Linked DNA regions of Homo sapiens. The protein of the gene in region 3 purifies or fractionates together with the protein of the main gene of each other region. This does not show direct contact. Each region holds a gene or a part of one and is shown on either strand. Other genes may lie near its edges. The genes, in order: LY96, CLEC4M and TLR2.

The links.
Region 1: the proteins of TLR2 (region 3) and LY96 purify together in Homo sapiens (affinity purification with western blotting, with the first as the bait; one study listed by BioGRID). This does not show direct contact.
Region 2: the proteins of TLR2 (region 3) and CLEC4M purify together in Homo sapiens (affinity purification with western blotting, with the first as the bait; one study listed by BioGRID). This does not show direct contact.

The regions. Positions count from the first base shown.
Region 1 is NC_000008.11:74,008,328-74,011,977, reverse strand, and holds part of LY96 (lymphocyte antigen 96 isoform 1 precursor), read right to left. Parts: intron 1,978-3,650; coding exon 1,849-1,977; intron 1-1,848. UniProt on the Homo sapiens protein: Binds bacterial lipopolysaccharide (LPS). Cooperates with TLR4 in the innate immune response to bacterial lipopolysaccharide (LPS), and with TLR2 in the response to cell wall components from Gram-positive and Gram-negative bacteria.
Region 2 is NC_000019.10:7,761,704-7,765,453, reverse strand, and holds the start of CLEC4M (C-type lectin domain family 4 member M), read right to left. Parts: upstream 2,212-3,750; 5' UTR 2,188-2,211; coding exon 2,142-2,187; intron 2,062-2,141; coding exon 1,978-2,061; intron 270-1,977; coding exon 186-269; intron 1-185.
Region 3 is NC_000004.12:153,682,708-153,686,457, forward strand, and holds the start of TLR2 (toll-like receptor 2 precursor), read left to right. Parts: upstream 1-1,572; 5' UTR 1,573-1,653; exon of another isoform or gene 1,654-3,750. UniProt on the Homo sapiens protein: Cooperates with LY96 to mediate the innate immune response to bacterial lipoproteins and other microbial cell wall components. Cooperates with TLR1 or TLR6 to mediate the innate immune response to bacterial lipoproteins or lipopeptides.

The DNA.
Region 1 (3,650 bases), on a different chromosome or scaffold from region 3:
TAATTTGCTTTTCTCTGATGATTAGTAATATACCTATTGACCATTTCTATCTGTTCTTTTGAAAAGTATCTATAAGTGTCTATTCATGTCCTTTTCCCACTTTTTTTTTTTTTTTTTTTGAGATGGAGTCTCACTCTGTCACCTGGGCTGGAGTGCAATGGCATGGTCTCGCCTCACTGCAACCTCCACCTCCTGGGTTCAAGCGATTCTCCTGCCTCAGCCTCTCAAGTAGCTGGGACTACAGGCGCATGCCACCACACCTGGCTAATTTTTGTAGTTTTAGTAGAGATGGGGTTTCACTATGTTGGCCAGGCTGGTCTCGAACTCCTGACCTCATGATCCACCTGCCTTGGTATCCCAAAGTGCTGGGATTACAGGCGTGAGCCACTGCGCCTAGCCACTCTTCCCACTTTTTAATGGGGTTATTTGTTTTTGTTGTTGCTGTTGAGTTGCTTGAGTTCTTTGTACATTCTGAATATTAGTCCCCTGTTGGATGAATAGTTTGCGAATTTTTTCTCATATACTACAGGTTGTCTGTTCACTCCGTTGATTATTTCTTTTGCTATGCAGAAGCTTTTTGATGTAATTAAATCCCATTTGTCTACTTTTGTCTTTATTGCCTGTGCTTTTGAGATCTTTGTCATAAATTCTTTGCCTAGACCAATGTCCAGAAGAATCTTTCCTAGGTTTCTTCTAGTATGTTTGTAATTGCAGATCTTATGCTTAAGTTGTTCATCCATCTTGAGTTGATTTTTGTATGTGGTGAGAGCTAGGGGTCCAGTTTTATTCTTCTGCATATGGCAATCCAGTTTTCCCCAGAGTAACTTTCTGAGGAAGGAGATCCTACCATTCAACTTCAGATAACCAGAACGTAAATCACGATTTGCTCAAATTAGGTTCAATAGATGTTTATGGAAGAAAGTGGGAGGAGGGAGAGAAGAAGTAGACAAGCTGATTTGAGTCTGACACCTCTGAGGTCTCAAGAAAGAGAAACTTTGAAGATTCAGGTAAAATATCAATGTAATTCCACAGAGATTGTGTAAAAGAAATGCACAATTAAAAAAAAAAACAGTAATCTGCTAAGGGATTTTTTTTTTCCAAAGAGAAAGCATGACACAGTAGGAGAGTCATGTCTTAGAGTTAGGATGCTGCTCTGTTACTAGTTCTCCAAATGACCATGGACACATTACTAAGCCACTGCAAACATCAGTTCCCTCATTATAAAGATGACAGGACTGGAAAATTCATAACAAAAGAAGGATTCTTATTCTGAACACTGTACTAGGCTTTTTTTTTTAACATACATTCTCAAATTTAATTCTTAAAACTATGTATGATGTGTTTTACTTTCCCATTTTATAGCTGAGGAAAATGAGGCCAAGAAAGGTTAAATATTAATAACATGCCAAAAGTCACATTGCTGGTAAATGGAAAAGCTGGAATATAGCTCTAAAGTGGTAATTCCTTTTTTTTATTCATTTTTATTTTTTATTTTTTTATCCCTTGGTGCAAGATCTCTGTAAGGGTCCTAATTTCTGAATGTTATTATTCTGTAAATAATTCCAAGGAGGAACATAAAGGCAGAAGTCACTAAAGAAACCAAGGACTGTATAGAAAATCTGGTGGGTTACTATGAAAAATATTAATAATACAAATCATGTAAGTGTCATCCTAACAGTTCAAGTATATAGTTATAAAATGTTATTTAAGCTGCTAAAGTAAAAACTTTGGATGGAAAAAGAATTATTAGCAGAAAAGGAACTTCCCATTTTCAATGTATTTAATTTTCATAACATTTTCATAAAGAATTATTTCCTATTCTAAAAGTAATATGAACTGAATACTTACCTCCCTTCAGAGCTCTGCAAAAAGAGTAATCGTCATCAGATCCTCGGCAAATAACTTCTTTGCGCTTTGGAAGATTCATGGTGTTGACAGTTATATAGAGATTGAAATATAATTGCTTTAAATCTCTCCCTTTAAAAGAAAAAATCCCATTAGGCCCTCAAATAGTAGATTCTTTTATACATAGTAATTAACATTTATTGTATAGTTAAAAGGGGCCCTGTGCTTTTCTTACATTATTTCATTTAATCATCACAACTATCTACAAGATGTCAATTATTACTCTTCTTCTGCAGATGAGAAAACTGAAGTTCTGAGAGGGCAACTAGTAAATCATAATCAAATACAATGTTCCACAGTAAAACTATGCATGCTCTGCCTAAAAACAGAAGAGCCTTCATAACTTCATTGAGAAAACTATCAAATAAAGACATAAAATGTCTAGTTCTATGGTTCTGCTAGAAAATTCAAAAGAAAAGAAAAGGAAAGGAAGGACAGTGAGACAGTCAACTTTCTAGGAGTTCTGATGAAAGATTTCTTGAGAATAAAATAGAATCTTTTGATGAAAAATTAAATGTATGCCTATTTTTTAATTTCCTCATGATCTCCCTATTTCCAGCTACCATGAAAAATTCCAGTAATCAATGCATTTTTCTCAACTCTTCCAACTTATTCAGTTGGCCCAAATGAAAAAGATGCACAATCCTTTTCTTTCTTTTCTTTTCTTTTCTTCTTTTTTTTTTTTTTTTTTTTTTTTTGAGAAAGACTGGAGTGCAGTGGCGTAATCTTGGCTCACTGCAACCTCCGCTGCCCAGGTTCAAGCAATTCTTCTGCCTCAGCCGCTGGAGTAGCTGGGATTACAGGCGCCTACCACCGTGCCCAGCTAATTTTTGTATTTTTAGTAGAGATGGGGTTTCACCATCTTGGCCAGGCTGGTCTTGAACTCCTGACCTCGTGATCCACCCACCTCAGCCTCCCAAAGTACTGGGATTACAGGCATGAGCCACCATGCCTGGCCAAAAAAGATGCACAATCCTTTTCATAAAGAAAACAATTTTGCAACCACTACCTCACTGAAAATATTTTCCTAGTAAGATCACCATGACTCATTGTAACCATAATCAAAAGACAACTTTTCTAACTTTAATTTGAACTTGGCTATGCTTAACAGAACTGCCTGCTCCTTTCCCTAAACCTTCTTTGGTGTTGGTGCAACCACTCCCTTCCAGGTGTCCTCCAATCTCTCTGACTCCTCTTCCTCAGTCTATTTCATCGACTCCTGGATTTCTCCAGGATCTATCCTCAGTTCTCCTTAGTTTTCACTCTGCACACTCTCTCAGGCCAAGTACCACATAAGGTGACAATTCTCAAGTCAACTTTAGTCTCAACCTTTCTCCTGAGCATTGATCCCATGTATTTATTCAATATCTCTACTCAAATGTTGCCCAGTTACCTCACCCAACAGATCTAAAAGTGATTTCCTCCTCTTCATCACCAAGTTGGCACTAGAATTCCCAGTCCCAGTAAATCTTTCTAACCTCCTTTTCATCCCCATTACCGCGCTGCCTTCATGTAGGCCCTCATTGCTCTGAACCTGAAGCACCACCAACTTTCCTAATTTGTCTTCACTTCTCAACTTTCAGGGTAGGGTGTGGAGAAGAATATCATGGCGTCTGTTTCAAACAGTGATCCCATGGCCTACTCCATGGACTTGGGCTTGAACTTCTCCAAAAGCAGTGCTGTGTGTAGAAGTTGAAAGACCATTTTCATAAGGAATTCCTGGAGACACAGAAGCACAAGACAGC
Region 2 (3,750 bases), on a different chromosome or scaffold from region 3:
CTCCTCCTCCCTCTCCTGTCCTGCTCTAGAGTGGGGAGGGGCTGTGGGAGAGGCCCCTACAGACCCCCAGGGACAACATCTTGGCTCTCAGTCCCACCTCCCTCCCAGACCTGGCCACTCCAGGCTCTGTTCATAGCCAAAAGGCCAGGCCTGGGGACCCCAGACCCTCAGAACCTGCCCCTGACCTTGGACAAGGATGGCCACCAGGACCCCAGCCAAGAGCATGAAGGAGAGGAGTTGCAGCACCAGGGCGCCATGGCCAAGACACCCTGAGAGAGGATACATGCGTCAGCCTGCCAGTGTTCCCACCTGAGCCTGGCCCAGGGAGAGCCTGGCCTAATCCCTCAGCACCCCAGGACCCAGGAACCCCAGCCCCAGCCCCCTCCACTCCAACACCTGGGAATCCAGGCCCTAGCTCTAACCTCCCCAGGACCCAGGAACCCCATCCCCAGCCTCTCCCTCCCCAAGTCCCAGGAGTTTAGGTCCCAACCCCCACCTCCCCAGGTCCCAGGAACCCAGGTACCTGCGTCCACCTCCCCAGTGGAACAGGAATGAAAAGAAATTAAAGAATGTGTAAGCAAAAACTCAGTTGTATGTAAGAAAACCCAATTCCCCCTGAGGAAGAGAAAGAGGTGGAATCCTTTAAAAATTAACTGCCTTTTTGGCCAGGCATGGTGGCTCACACTTGTAATCCCAGCACTTTGGGAGGCTGAGGCAGGCAGATCACAAGGTCAGGAGATCAAGACCATCCTGGCTAACACAGTGAAACCCTATCTCTACTAAAAATACAAAAAATTAGCCGGGCGTGGTGGTGGTGGGCGCCTGTAGTCCCAGCTACTCGGGAGGGTGAGGCAAGAGAATGGCATGAACCTGGGAGGCAGATCTTGCAGTGAGCCGAGATGGCGCCACTGCATTCCAGCCTGGGTGACAGAGCAAGACTCTGTCTCAAAAAAAATAAATAAATAAATAAAAATAAAAACTAAATAAATAAAATAAAAAAGAATTAACTGCCTGTTTTTCTGTGTGTGGCTAGTGAGCCTTATCTCTCCCTTTCCCAGGCATTGTGAAGACCCTGTTTCTCTAGCTGTGCAGCTGCAAGGTCACTAGGCAGATAAACTCAAGTTGTAAAACATGTTTTTCCTTGAAAAATAAGAAATGACGTAATGCATGTCTCAATTGAATAACTATCTTTGTTTCTCGCTTCTGTAATATGCTTCCCCCTGCACAGATCTCCCCCTACCCCATGAAATGCTTAAAAGGTAACTTGACTCTTTGTTTGGGGCTCAGTCTTTTTGGATGTTAATCTGACTGGGCTGGTGCACCTAAATAATAATAATAATAATAAATCCTCCTCAACCCCTTGATCTCTGTGATTCCTAAATTATCCTGCAACACCAGGACTCAGGCATCCAGGTCCCAGCCTCCACATCTCCAGGTCCCAGGAGGAACCCAGGCCCAAGCTCCCACCTCCCCAGGTCCTAGGAACCCAGATACCTGCTTCTACCTCCCCAGGACCCACGAATTCAGGCCCCAGTTCTCACCTTCCCCAGGACCCAGTAATCTGGTCCCAGCTCCCACCTCCCCAGGACCCAGGATTCCAGTCCCCAGTTCTCACCTGCCCCAGGACCCAGGAATCCAGGCCCCTTCTCCCACCTCCTCTGGTTCCAGGAGTCCAGGCTCCAGTCCCTACCTCCCATGGACCCAGGTGTCCAGCTTCCAACCCCCACCTCTGTAGGTCCCAGGAGTCCAGAACCCCTCTCCCACCTCCCCAGGCCCCAGGAACCCAAGCCTCAACCCCCACCTCCCCAGGTGTGAGGAGTTCAGATCCCTACCCCGTCCTCTTCAGGACCCAGGAACCCAGGTCTCAGACCTTCCTTCCCCAGAACCCAGGATTCCAGACCCCAACACCTACCTCCCCAGGACCCAGGGGTCTGGGAGGCTCTGTCTTCCACTATCTGCTCCCTAACTCTTGCCTACCTGTAGAGCTCTTGTGGCCATGTATCTGCTGGAATTGAAAGTCTCTTGGAAAAAGTCTGATGCCACTGGTTGTTGGATCTTCTTCTGAATTGACAGACATCAGCTCAGAGCCTGGGCCATCCCTTCCCCTTACCCAGGATCCCAGAGTTCCAACCCAGCCTTACCCAGGAGGCCCAGCTGCTGCACCCTTGGTTCCTTGGAGTCACTCATGTTTTCCCGCTGTCCCCAGATGTTCAGGACTCCTGGGGACCACAGCTTTTATTTTCCACCCTCTGATCCTCACTTTCTAAATCTACTGTCTCTCAGGAAGACAAACAGGAAGCTGGGTAAGATCACATCACCAGAAAGGCTAGTGAAAGGAGTCAGAGCCTGAGATCGGCCTGACCTTGCAGGAATTTCAGGGAGGTGTTGGGGGATGGTCTGGGGTTGACAGGGAGAAGGACTCCTCCACTCATGACATGGTTGAGCGATGGGATGCTTTTAATAAAATTCAATTCATTCTAATGGAAAGCGACTTTGTTATGCCTCCCTACGTAGGGCAGGGGTGGGCAGGCAGTACCGCCTAGTTCCTGGAACCACCATGCCCTCTGACCTCCAGGATCTGCTCTTTTGGTCTGCGGATGCTCTCATTCATGGGAATTTCCTTTGTTTTTGGGAGTTGGAGATGAACGATAGTTGTTTATTTCATACCTATGATAGGCACATTTCCAACAGCTTTATAAAACTCCTTCATTTAACTTTCCTACCCTGCAGTAGATCATGTGACCTCCAGTTTACAGATAGGGGAAAATAGAGGCACTGCGAGATTAAGAAACTAGCCCAAGGTCACACAGCTGGTAAATGGTGGAGCTGAGATTCGAATCCAGGCAGTTTTCCTCCACACTCCACCCAGTTAACCAAAGAGGGTCTAATAACATCAAGGGCAAAATAGAAAGATTTATAGTAACTTTAGTTAGACTATCCCAACCCAAATTGGAACAACCCATGTGGCCACCAGCAGGTGAATGAAAACAAATATCATGGCATATTCAGAGGGTGGAATTCTATACAGTAATGAAAAAGCAAAGTACTGATACAAACAACAATTTGGATGAATCTCACAAGAGTTAAGAAACCCAAACAGAATGAATACATTCTGTAAGATTTTGAGTTTACATGAATTTCAAGAATAGGCAGAAGAACTAACCTTTGATGGGACTCAAATTGGGGGCTTTCTGGAAGGAGTGGGTGTAAACTGACCAGAATGGGGTAGAAGGAAATTTTCTGCTGACAATGTTCCATATTTTTTTCTGAGAAGTGGCTGCATGGATGAATTCATATGTCAAAATTTCTTCTCTTTCTTTCTTTCTTTCTTTTTTTTTTTTTTTTTTTGAGACAGAGTCTCGCTCTGTCACCCAGGCTGGAGTGCAGTGGCTGATCTGGGCTCCCTGCAACCTCCGCCTCCTGGGTTCAAGTGATTCTTCTGCCTCAACCTCCCGAGTAGCTGTGACTACAGGTGTGCGCCACCACATCTGGCTAATTTTTGTATTTTTATTTATTTATTGGAGACGGAGTCTCGCTGTGTTGCCCAGGCTGGAATGCAGTGGTGCAATCTTGGCTCACTGCGACCTCCACCTCCCAGGGTCAAGTGATTCTCCTGCCTCAGCCTCCCGAGCAGCTGGGATTACAGGTGCATGCCACCATGCCTGGCTAATTTTTTTGTATTTTTAGTAGAGACGGGTTTCATCATGTTGGACAGGCTGGTCTGGAACTCCTGACCTTAAGTGATCTGCC
Region 3 (3,750 bases):
GTGTCTGAATTGGACGTGCTAATAGCTTTGTGGACAGTGTACAACTACCTTCAATATATGCAGAGGACACTGATTTGTGGCTAAATAAATGATTTCTATCTGACTTTGCCAGACAATTCTAATTGACTTTGGGATTATAGAGCAATAGCATCAAAATCCACCTTAGGCAGTTCAACTAGGGAAGAGAAATAGAGAAAAAACAAGTTTTTAGTTTCAGGAGAAATAATTTGAAGGAAGTTTTCTTTTGTCAGAAATCACAAGGTAGAGAGCTGGAGATTTGGAATTAATAAGAAAGCATTTTCAGCCAGCTGGACAACCTGATGGTCAGGATAAAGAAAAATAGTAAGATAGTGACCTGTATACAAAAACCTCTCAATTTCATATTTAGGTCTATTGATTAAGTTTCCCTGATGTTCCAACCATCAGAGAGGATTAGGGATGTGGAACAGGGTAGGAGAAACAGCCCTGGATTTAAGGTAAAATTCTGGTTTCAAATCTCAGTTCTGTCATATGTTATACAATTCACATGACATTTTCTTGTGTAAGGGAGGAACAAGGATGCTTGCTCTGCTTCATATCTCACTTTGTGAAAATCAAATGTAATTATGAACATAAAAGGTAGATTATTAACATTAAGGCAGTTGAATTTTAAAAGCTTGTTTTCTTCCCTTATACATATTCCTAACCGTGGAGACAGCTAGGTTCTGTGGCAATGAAGAAAATTGATCAATGACTGTTTTTGGTATTACTTTGGGAAGTAGGGATGGAATAGGGGCAAGGGAAGGGCTTAGCTTCAAACTGTAGACAGAAGTGGGAAGCCCAAATCTTTGCATGGTGAGAAGTGGGATGGAATGTAGGTGCTAGAGATGGTGCACCAGTAGGGACTGTCACTGGATTGGGGAAAAAAATCCGGGGCTGTCCTTATCTGCTCCCTTAGGCAAAATCGTTCTGTGTTAGTCTGGAGGGTGAACCTATTTTAATGCAGGAGGGCATAGACTTTTGGGTGGAAGCGGACCCTGGAGATGTACTGGCAGGTGAATAGAGTGTGGAAAAGTGGGGAAAGGAGAAGCACGATTCATGAGCCTGAGTTCGGGCTTCCATGGATGGAAAAGCATCAGGAGTGGAATTTAAAGACGGTGTGTTTCAGGTGATGTGAGGTCCTGGATGCCCGAAGCTTCAAGAAAATACTGGTTGGGCACTTAGCTTTCCCTGTGGTTGCCAATCCCACGCAGGCCGCCTCTAGCGTCTCGATTCGCTTTTCTCTGACCTGGAACCTCCGCCAAGCCCCCAGCTCTCTTCTTCGACCCAGCCTTGCACGGGGCAGCTGTCGGGGCAGGACCCGCCTCTGGCCTGTCGCAGCCTAGCTCACGGTCAAGGGCGGGAGCCTGCTGGGAAGCACGGCCGCGGGGGCTCGCTCGGGGCCACCTGCCTGGAACTCAGCGCGAGGTCCAGAGTTCCCTCCGGCTGCGCAGCGGCGCACGTGCCCCGTGGAAGGGGCGGTTCCCGCACCCCAGAAGGAGGGGGCGCCCGGCCGCGCGGACTTTCCCTTTTGCTTACTTCCTAGTCCCGGGCAGGCCGGCTCGGAGGCAGCGAGAAAGCGCAGCCAGGCGGCTGCTCGGCGTTCTCTCAGGTGACTGCTCGGAGTTCTCCCAGGTACGTCGTGCGCTCCCCACTCGTGTGGTCTCTCTGCACCCCTTCCTGGGGTCGGGTCGGGCAGGGGCGGAGGGGAGCCGCAGCCCGGTCACGGGCTCTGGGGAACCCGGGCTCCCGTTCGGCTGCACCTGGGCCCCTAGCTCCTGTCCGGGCGGGGATAGCGGGAAGCGCACCAGGCCCCCGGGACGCCGGTGCTTCTTTGCACGGCCCAGCGCGGGAATGTGGACACCAGCGAAGCCGGCTCAGGTCGGCCCTCGGGAGAAGCAGGGGCTACACGGAAAGGGAGCCCGAGGGTCCTGCAGAGCCCGAGGTCGGGACCCCGCGCGTGCAGTGCCAATGGGCTGCGGCTGGGCTGAGCGCCCTTCCAACCTTGCAGGCCCCGGGGGGGTTGCCGCGGAGAGCTTCCGCTGGGGCTCCGGGCCTCTGGCCGCCACCTCCCTCGGGAGGCCGAGGGGGGCGGTGGCCCCGGCCCGGCCCTCCCGCTTCCCTCACGGCCTGGCCCTCCCGCTTCCCTGATTCCCGGTAGGGTCGCTCTCCCCGCCTCCTGGCCCCTCTTGGCTCGGATGACAAAGATTGGGTAAAGGCTTTCAACGAGCTAGCGTCTGGCAGGGGGTGTGTCCTCGCTCACTGGTTACTGCTAGGACGGAGCTTGGATTTTGGTCACCGTGGCTCAGAGGTGGGAAAGGTTCCGTGCTCTGGGTCTGTCCAGGACCCTGGCTCCCTAACCCAAGTCTGACCTCTGCTCCCTGGCAGGCTTCGCCCCACCTCTGCGTTCCTTCATTCTTAGGATGTGTGAGTTAGGTCTCTGATTAGAAAACAACTTACAGCGTTTAAGCAAAGTCGAGTCCTTCAAGTAAGAATGCTTTGAAGTGCCCTTTACAACTTCTTCAACTTCTATAAATATGAACTTGTGTTTAGAACTTAAATGCAAGCCAGGAAAGTCTTTTTCCTGTTTGAAAGAGAGAGAAAGAGAGAGAAAGAGGTGATTGGAAGTGGTGGGTGGGGGCGGAGAAAGAGAAGGAGAGTAATCTGGGTGTAGACAACTCAAAGTTTGCTGAGATGACTTTAATCTTTTGACTCTGTTATTAAGATTTTTACCAAAGAGCAACTGTAGCTATGGTGGCCTGACTTGAAGGGACAGACCAAACAAACAACAAAACACAAAACAAAACAAACAAACAACAAAAGCAAGAGCAGAAACTATTGGAAAATGATTTATTCACCAATATTTTAAAGGTTCTTCCTGTTCTAAGCAAGGAACATCTTTAAGTTCTTTATAATGTACCCATTTTACATTTACAAAAACTGCCAGAAGTTGACAGCATGTTTTGGGGGTTTCTAAGCTATCAGTTAATTTTTTGGGGTACAGTTTTATTGATAAACTAACAGAGTAGAAAAAATCTAATGGAATACCCCCAAATTTAAAAGAGGGCAAGAAAAGAGAGACAATAGAACATAAAACAAATGGGACAAGAATAAAGTACATAGTTGTCACAGTCCCTTGGGTGCTGCTGTAACAAAATACCTGAGACTGGGTAATTTACAAAGAACAGAAATTTATCCATTCATGGTTCTGGAGTCTGGGAAGTCCAAGATTGAAGGGCTGCATCTGGTGAGGGTCATCTGGCTACATTATAACATGATGGAAAGCATCACATGGTGAGAGAGAGCAAGAGAGGACAGAACTTACTTTTATAACAAACTCATTCTCACAATAAACTGCTCCCTTGGTGATAACATTAATCCATTTATGAGGGTACAGCCTTCATAACCTAATCACCTCTTAAAAGGTTCCACCTCTCAGCTCGCAGTGAGCCGAGATCATGCCACTGCACTCCAGCCTGGGTGACAGAGCGAGACTCTGTCTCAAAACAAACAAACAAACAAAAATTCCACCTCTCAACACTGTTGCATTGAAGATGAAATTTCCAATACATGAGCTTTGGGGCACACATTCAAACCATAGCAATAGTTCAATTACTTTAAAGCCCAAAATGTCAGTAATTATATTAAATGCAATTTAATACATCAGTAACTAAATGAGATAGACTAAATTTTATGATAATCAGACTAATATTATCAGACTAGACTTCAAAA